Homo sapiens: one gene and its partner. The protein of the gene in region 1 interacts with the protein of each later gene in a pairwise test. Each region holds a gene or a part of one and is shown on either strand. Other genes may lie near its edges. The genes, in order: PHLDB3 and TPM3.

What was found.
Region 2: the proteins of PHLDB3 (region 1) and TPM3 interact in binary tests that used the Homo sapiens proteins (3 or more experiments, as listed by UniProt).

What each region holds. Positions count from the first base shown.
Region 1 is NC_000019.10:43,480,671-43,484,485, forward strand, and holds part of PHLDB3 (pleckstrin homology-like domain family B member 3), read right to left. Parts: intron 1-3,815.
Region 2 is NC_000001.11:154,189,143-154,193,399, forward strand, and holds the start of TPM3 (tropomyosin alpha-3 chain), read right to left. Parts: upstream 2,959-4,257; 5' UTR 2,877-2,958; coding exon 2,760-2,876; intron 2,592-2,759; exon of another isoform or gene 2,487-2,591; intron 2,170-2,486; coding exon 2,044-2,169; intron 1-2,043. UniProt on the Homo sapiens protein: Binds to actin filaments in muscle and non-muscle cells. Plays a central role, in association with the troponin complex, in the calcium dependent regulation of vertebrate striated muscle contraction.

The DNA of each region.
Region 1 (3,815 bases):
TACTTTCTAGGTATAATCTCTGCCCCCTCAAACTCTCCTGAAGGGGTAAGTACATTTATCTCCGTTTCACAGATGTGGAAACCAAGACTCAGAGAGGTTAAGTCACTCGGCACAAGTCACACAGCCAGAGCTGACAGAGCCAGGACTCACCAGGTAGAGTGGTCACCTCAGATGGTCATACAGGTTGGGGAGGAGGATTTAAGGCAATACAAGTGTCCACTATTTATGAGAGCCTGACCATGAGCTGGTCTGATCCAACCTATTCTTCCCAAATAATCCCTGCAAACAGTGGTATGATTCCGGAGGTCAAACTGAGGTTCAGGGTAGTACATCTCAGATTTCTTCATGCAAGCAGATCCGCTGGGGATTTTGTTAAAATGTTAAAATGCAGACTCTGATTCAGTCATTTCAGGGTGGAGTCTGGAGTAGGGGGAGAGGTTCTGCATGTCTGACAAGCTCCCAGGTGGGCCCTGATGCTGCTGTTCCACCAGCCACACTTTGAGTGTCAAGGAGTTAGAAAACTGAAGCAGGATGGGTGCGGTGGCTCACACGTGTAATCCCAGCACTTTGGGAGGCCAAGAGGGGAGGATCACTTAAACCCAGGAGTTTGAGACCAGCCTGGGGCAACATGGCGAAACCCCGTCTCTACAAAAAATACAAAAATTAGGCTGGGCGTGGTGGCTCACGCCTACAATCCCAGCACTTTGGGAAGCCAAGGTGGGGGGATCACCTGAGGTTGGGAGTTTGAGACCAGCCTGACCAACATGGAGAAACCCTGTCTCTGCTGAAAATACAAAATTAGCCAGGCGTGGTGGCGCATGCCTGTAATCCCAGCTACTCAGGAGGCTGAGGCAGGAGAATCGCTTGAACTCGGGAGGTGGAGGTTGCGGTGAATCAAGATGGCACCATTGCACTCCAGCCTTGGCAACAAGAGCGAAACTCCATCTCAAAAAAAAAATACAAAAATACAAACATTAGCCAGGCATGGTGGTGTGTGCCTAGGATCCCGGCTAATTAGGAGGCTGAGGTGGGAGGATCGCTTGAGCCCAGGAGGTGGGGGTTGCAGTGAGCCGAGATCACACCACGGCACTCCAGGCTGGGTGACAAAGGGAGACCATGTCTCAAAAAAAAAAAAAGAAAGAAAAGAAAGAAAACTGAAGCAAGGCCAGAGCAAGAAGGGATGAGAAACAGAGATGAGATCTGCTGGTTGGAGACAGGAGAGTGAGGTGGGGAAATGAGAAGGATTAGGGAGGAGGGAAAGGAAGGGAGGGAAAGGCCAGGTTTAAAGAGTACCCGCTGGGCCTGCAATCTCCCCAAATCCACACAGAAAGACCAAGGATCACCACTGTGTGTGGAAGCTCCCGCTCTGTGTCAGGCACTATGCCAAGTGGTCACTGTGATTACCTCGTTTCTTCTCCAAAAGAACCCATTAATGTTCCTGCTAGACAGATCAAGAAACTGAGGCTTTAAGAAGAGGTGACTCTCCAAGGTCACCAAACTAGGATGTAGGGGAGCTGGGCCCCAATCTAGGAGGAGACCAGGGATGGGCTTGGGACTCCACCACTGCCCGGCTGTGTCACCTCCACAGAACTCCTGCCCCTCTGGGAGCCTCAGTTCCCTATGCTAAAACACCAGGGTTATCACAGCACTCTCCTCTGGGGCTGTTTCAAGGATGAGCTGGCTGCCCTCAGGGTCTCTCACCTAGAGGTTCCTCTTCTAGGTGTGAAGCCCAGGGACACACTTGCTCACGTGCACAAAAGATAGCAGGGGTGTACGGCAGGGGACAAAGCACACAGCAGGGGACTGTTTAATAAATGATGATGCTAGAAGCCAGGCAGAACACCAGAGCAGGAGCAATTCTGTTTGTTTGTTTGTTTGTTTGTTTTGAGACAGAGTCTCGCTCTGTCACCCAGGCTGGAGAGCAGTGGTGTGATCTTGGCTCATTGCAACCTCTGCTTCCCAGTTCAAGCGATTCTCCTGCCTCAGCCTCTCGGGTAGCTGTGACTATAGGCACATGCCACCACGCCCAGATGATTTTTGTATTTTCAGTAGAGACGGGGTTTCTCCATGTTGGTCAGGCTGGTCTCGAACTCCTGACCTCAGGTGATCTGCCCACCTCAGCCTCCCAAAATGCTGGGATTACAGGCGTGAGCCACCACGCCTGGCCTGTGCTTCGTTTTTAATGAGCACAAGCTTATGCCTAACAATGCAGAAGACCCCACTGCCGTTCCTGCCTTATTTTGCTCCCTGGCTCTTATCAGCCTCTGACATGCTATTTATTTTACATATTGATGTTGCTTTGTGTCCATCTTCCCCCTTAAAACATCAGCTTCCCCCAAAGGTGGGGATTGTTATCTTGGTCACTGCTATGACCCAGGGTCTAGCACACAGTAGGCACTCAATAAATATGGGCTGAAATGAATAAGGGAAGGACAAATGGTGGTAAAAACAAAAAGGTTGGGAAGGATGTGCTTATTTATGAGACAAATTCACAAAATATGGCTTGACTGGTGCATGTGGAAAAGTATAAACACAGATTTGAAGGCTTCTCAGCAGTAGAAGTGAGATCAGGAAGAAAGTGACCACTTTCTTAATACTTTATCTATCATTCTTTTTTTTTTTTGAGGCAGGGTCTCACTCTGTCACTGAAGCTGGAGTGCAGTGGGGCGATTATAGCTCACTGCAGCCTCCACCCACTGGGCTCAAGCAATCCTCCCACCTTAGCCTTTTCCCGAGTAGCTGGGACCAAAGGCATGCACCACCACACCTGCTAATTTTTTAAATTTCTGTAGAGATGAGGGTCTGACTATGTTGCCCAGGCTGTTCTCCAGCTCCGGGACTCAAGTGATCCTCCCACCTCGGCCTCTCAAAGTGCTGAGATTATAGGCGTGAGCTATGGTGCCTAGCTTTATCATTCTTTATAACAAAACGCATTGATTCTATGAATGTTATTAGTATAGGCAAAAATGTAATTTATGTAAGGGAGTTGTCAGCTAAATCAAGAATGTGAAAAAGTCAACAGGATAAATTATTTGATTATTTCCACAAATAAATAGCATTTTCTTTAATGGGGAGGCAGAACTGTTAGAGATTAAAAGATTTAAGAGACATTAAACCAAATGCATAGCGTGTGCTTTGCATATAGATTCAAATAAATCAACTGTGAAAAGATATTTTAGGTCAGGCATGATGGTTCAGGCCTATAATCTCAGCACTTTGGCCAGAAGGGAGGCTCGAGGCCAGGAATTCAATACCAGCCTGGCCAACATAGTGTCTCTACTGTTAAAAATGGAAAACAAGGCCAGGCACGGTAGCTCATGCCTGTAATGCCAGCACTTTGGGAGGCCAAAGCGGGTGGATCACCTGAGGTCAGGAGTTCAAAACCAGCCTGGCCAACATGGTGAAACCCCGTCTCTACTATAAATACAAAATTAGCCAGGCATGGTGGTGGGCGCCTGTAATCCTAGCTACTCCAGAGGCTGAGGCGGGAGAATCGCTTGAACCCTGGAGGCGGAGATTGCAGTGAGCCGAGATTGTAATACTGCACTCCAGCTTGGGCAACAAAGTGAGACTCCATCTTGGAAAAAAAAAAAAAAAAGGAAAAGAAAAATAATAAATAAATTTTTAAAAACATATTTTGGAGACAATGAGAGAAATGTGAATATGGACTATATATTACAATATAATGAAATTAATAATCTCATAAGATGTGACAATGGAATTTTTGTTATGTTAAAAAAAAAAAAAAACTTATTGGCCAGGCACAGTGGCTTACACTTTTAATCCCAGCACTTTTTGAGGCCAAGGCACACAGA
Region 2 (4,257 bases), on another chromosome or scaffold:
AAAAAAAAAAAAAAAAAAAAAAAAAAAAAAAAAAAAAAAGCCCAGGCGCAGTGGCTTAGGCTGGGCGCAGTGGCTCACGCCTGTAATCCCAGTACTTTGGGACACTGAGGCAGGCGGATCACTTGAGGTTAGGAGTTCGAGACCAGCATGGCCAACATGGCGAAACCCCATCTTTACTAAAAAAAAAATACAAAAATTAGTTGGGTATGGTGGCACACACCTGCAATCCCAGCTACTCGGAAGGCTGAGGCAGGAGAATGGCTTGAATCCAGGAGGCACAGCTTGCAGTGAGCCTAGATTGTGCCACTGCACTCCAGCCTGGGCAACAGAGCGAGACTCCATCTCAACAACAACAATAAAAAGAAACCTGGCTGGGCGGGGTGGCTCACGCCTGTAATCCCAGCACTTTGGGAGGCCGAGGCAGGCGGATCACCTGAGGTCAGGAGTTCAAGACAAGCCTGACCAATATGATGAAACCCCGTCTCTAGTAAAAATATGAAAATTAGCCAGCCAGGCATGGTGGCACGTGCCTGTAATCCCAGTTACTCAGGAGGCTGAGATAGGAGAATCGCTTCAACCTGGGAGGTGGAGATGGCAGTGAGCCGAGATAGTACCATTTTATTACAGCCTGGGCAACAAGAGTGAAACCCTGTCTCAAAAAAAAAAAAAAAAAAAAAAGGAAAAGAAAAGGAAAGAAACCGGATGGCAGAGAGACCAAATATGAGGATCCGAAAGCATTTATGAATGGTTCACTCTGTCTGTCCTTCTAGCTATTTTCCAAAACCAAATGTGATTTTATTTTATTGACTTATTTTTTGAGACAGAGTCTCTCTCTGTTGCCCAGGCTAGAGTGCAGTGGTACGATCTCGGCTCCATGCAGCCTCCGCCTCCTGGGTTCAAGCGATTCTCCTGCCTCAGCCTCCTGAGTAGCTGGGATTACAGGCACCCGCCACCACACCTGGCTAATTTTTGTATTTTTACTAGAGACAGGGTTTCACCATGTTGGCCAGGCTGGTCTCAAACTCTTGACCTCAGGTGATCCACCCGCCTCGGCCTTCCAAAGTGCTGGGATTACAGGCGTGAGCCACCGCACCCAGCCCAAATATGATTTTAAATATTACATGCTCCTTTTTTCCTATTAACTCAGTTCACTGAGAAACTTGTTTCCACCAATACTGGGACATTTCTGTTGTTGTTGGTAAGATTCCTATGGTACTTTTCTTCTAAAAAACTTTTCAATCTACTCTCTCATTTATCTTTGCAGCAAACTTCAAGGTTAAAGATGAAGGAAAGTAGGTGATGATGATGGGATAATATGAGATGGAAAAGAGAATTTATTTTATTTGAGAATGGGAAAATTCAGCCCTAGACAAGCTGAGTAATTACTCACGGTCATAGAGTGAAGTCTGGTGGTGATACCTTTACCCCCTAAGATTCTTTCTTAGTTTCTATTATACTCTGTCACTGTAGGGATCTCTCTGCTGCCCTAGGAGCAATGCTTCATATGGCATCTCCATGGCATAAAGGCAAATGCCTGCATTGGCCAAGATAAATAAACCCATATATGGCCAGGGTCAGTGTGACCTCCATTTCCCATTGTGAAATCCGAGCTGGTTTTGTTGGACAGTTGAGAGATGAGAGGTTCCCTATTAATACACATATCCACATGCCAAGACTTGGACATAAAAGCTAAGAATGTGGCATGGGGGAGGAGGTAGGATAAGTGACAGCATTCTGAACTTAGAGTCCCCTCTCTTTGTCCAGGTCCTGGGAAAGATAATTAAATTCCTGGGTTGGTGATAGGAGATAAATGAGACCTTTACATGTATTAAAAAAAAACTTTTAACATGTTGGAGATGTCTTTAAGAAAGAAAATACATGCCATTATGAGAATATACCAGCATGTGGTTATATGCAAAAATGTATGTGAGTATATATGTCTGTGTTCCATGAACCCACAAGTGTGTTTGGAATTTCGTCATACATTAACATAAAGATCTATATGTGTAGATTAAACCCATCCTCCATCTCTCTAATACTCACATCAGCAGCCTTCTTCTCTGCCAGTTCCAGCTTCTCCTGGGCATCCTTCAAAGCTTCAGAATACTTGTCCAGCTCATCCTCTGTCCCTTTCAGCTTCTTCTGCATGGCTGCCAGCTCATCCTCCAGCTATAGGAGCCCAGAGAGTCACACACAAAAACACACAAACACAACAATGCAGGGTTGGACCCTGGGCTCTTGGAGCCCTGAGTGTAACCTCCATGTTACCATCCCTAGTGAGACACACTTTCTCCCCAGCCACTTCCAGCCCACTGCCTCAGGAGTTATGCCGTAGCTTGGCCTGTGACCCTGTAATCTCTGATCCTAAGATGACCAAGCCATCCTGGGTTTTCATCCAAGACCCCTGGATGATAAATATCTAAAGTGTAGATGCCCGTGATGCTATTTGAGTGAAAAGAGATGCTCTTTCCCTCTAGAACTCTTACCTTTTCCTCTAGAAGTCAAGGGTTCTTCCAAAACATGGTCCATTTCTACTTAAATTCAGCAGACATACTGTGGCTCACTGACTTTCCCAAGGTCACAAAGGCAGTCTGAGACAGATATGTTAGATATCCTCTGCTCCTCCAGTGAGGCTGGGGAGTCCATCCCACCCCCAAAAAGGAGGTGACACCAGTAGTCACTGTCTTTCCCATGAAAACTCCCTTCCATTTCACAGTCTTGTTCACTAGCAGATGAGAGAGATCAATGCCAGTGCCTACCTGTTTACTTCTTTCTTCTGCCTGCTTCTGCTCAGCTTCAGCTTGCTCTGCCCGATCCAGAGCATTCTCCTTGTCTAACTTCAGCATCTGCATCTTTTTCTTGATGGCCTCCATCATGAGCAGTGGCTGTTGGTAGGCTCACCTGTGAACACTGGAGAACTGGAGACTGGGGCAAGAAAGAAGGGGCTGCTGCCTGAGTGACCAGGAGGTCCCCAGACTTGAGTCTTTATCTGTGCTCATAGCTCCACCTTTTGTTCCTAATATGGTCTTTCCAGCTCCCTCCACCCCATCATTGTTCTCCTGGGGGAACACAGGGTGAGACGCTTTGATGAACTGACATCACCAGCAAAAAAAATATCTAGCAACAGCTGAGGCTGATTTTAGACAATGGAAAGTGGGGGAGGGAAGAGGTTCTCCCTGACCCTGAAACTTTCCACTCATTCTGGGCAGCTCTATGGATGTTTTAAAAGAAGAGGAAGAGGGGAGGGAAGAACATTGAAATAGAGAAGTGTACTTTGGCAATTCTAGGTTGGCAGTTTGCATCCAGGGGGTCCTGGTTGCCTTTCAGCTTCCCGTTTCACTCTCCCCCAGACTGTGTTGAATGCTGGTCAAACTCCGTTAGTTGAGTTTTAGCTTTTGATTCCTGGTATTCAAGGAGCTTGGGCACAGGGAAGAGGGGAGGTCACTCATGATCCTTAACAATTCTCCCAGATCCCCAGATCAAATTGCTGTGCTATTCTGGGAGTCTCCGATTGGCAGGGAGACGTTTTTCCTCCCCACCAAGAGCCACAAGAGTAGAGTAAGAGGTAGGGTTGGAATCTCCAACCCTATCCTTGAAGGCTATCCCAGAGCTTCAAGTGGGGTGGGGAGAGAAACAGGGGAGGGTCAGAACAATCCAGACAGGATCATACCCTTTGTTTTCCCACAGTAATCTTAAAATAGAACTGTTGTACCCACACAGACTTTGGTCTGTGTGGCTCTCTCCTCTTCTTCCCTTTATCTTCTCCCTTCTTAATTCTCCCCAACGCTGCCACTCACCACATCATCGTAATCATCATTATCAGCTCTATTCTTTCCAGTTTAGTTCCAGACCATGTTTATTCTTCCATTGGGAGCCTTGTTACTAACAGGTGGCAAGGATACCAGTCCACTGGCACCATACACCTGAAAATATGCCAAGGGAGAGGTGGGCACTGTTCAAGGTGACCAGATATATTGGACAAATATAAATGGCTCTAGTTAGTCATTTATGTCAGGATACTGAGAGTTAATGCTAAGCCCCAGCAATGGGGGAACGGAGACACCCACCAGGCCAGTGGGTAGAGCAGAGCTGGAGTCCACTATTGAGAGCTTCCAGTCACTAGAGGTAGATAGGCAGATAGACCATCAGCTGACTCTCGACAGAGAGAGGAGAAACCAAGTCTCCTTTCTCTGGAGATTAGCCAGGGAAAGGGGTTAGGGAACAGGGAGAGGAAGGAGTGGAAAATGGGGGGGGGGT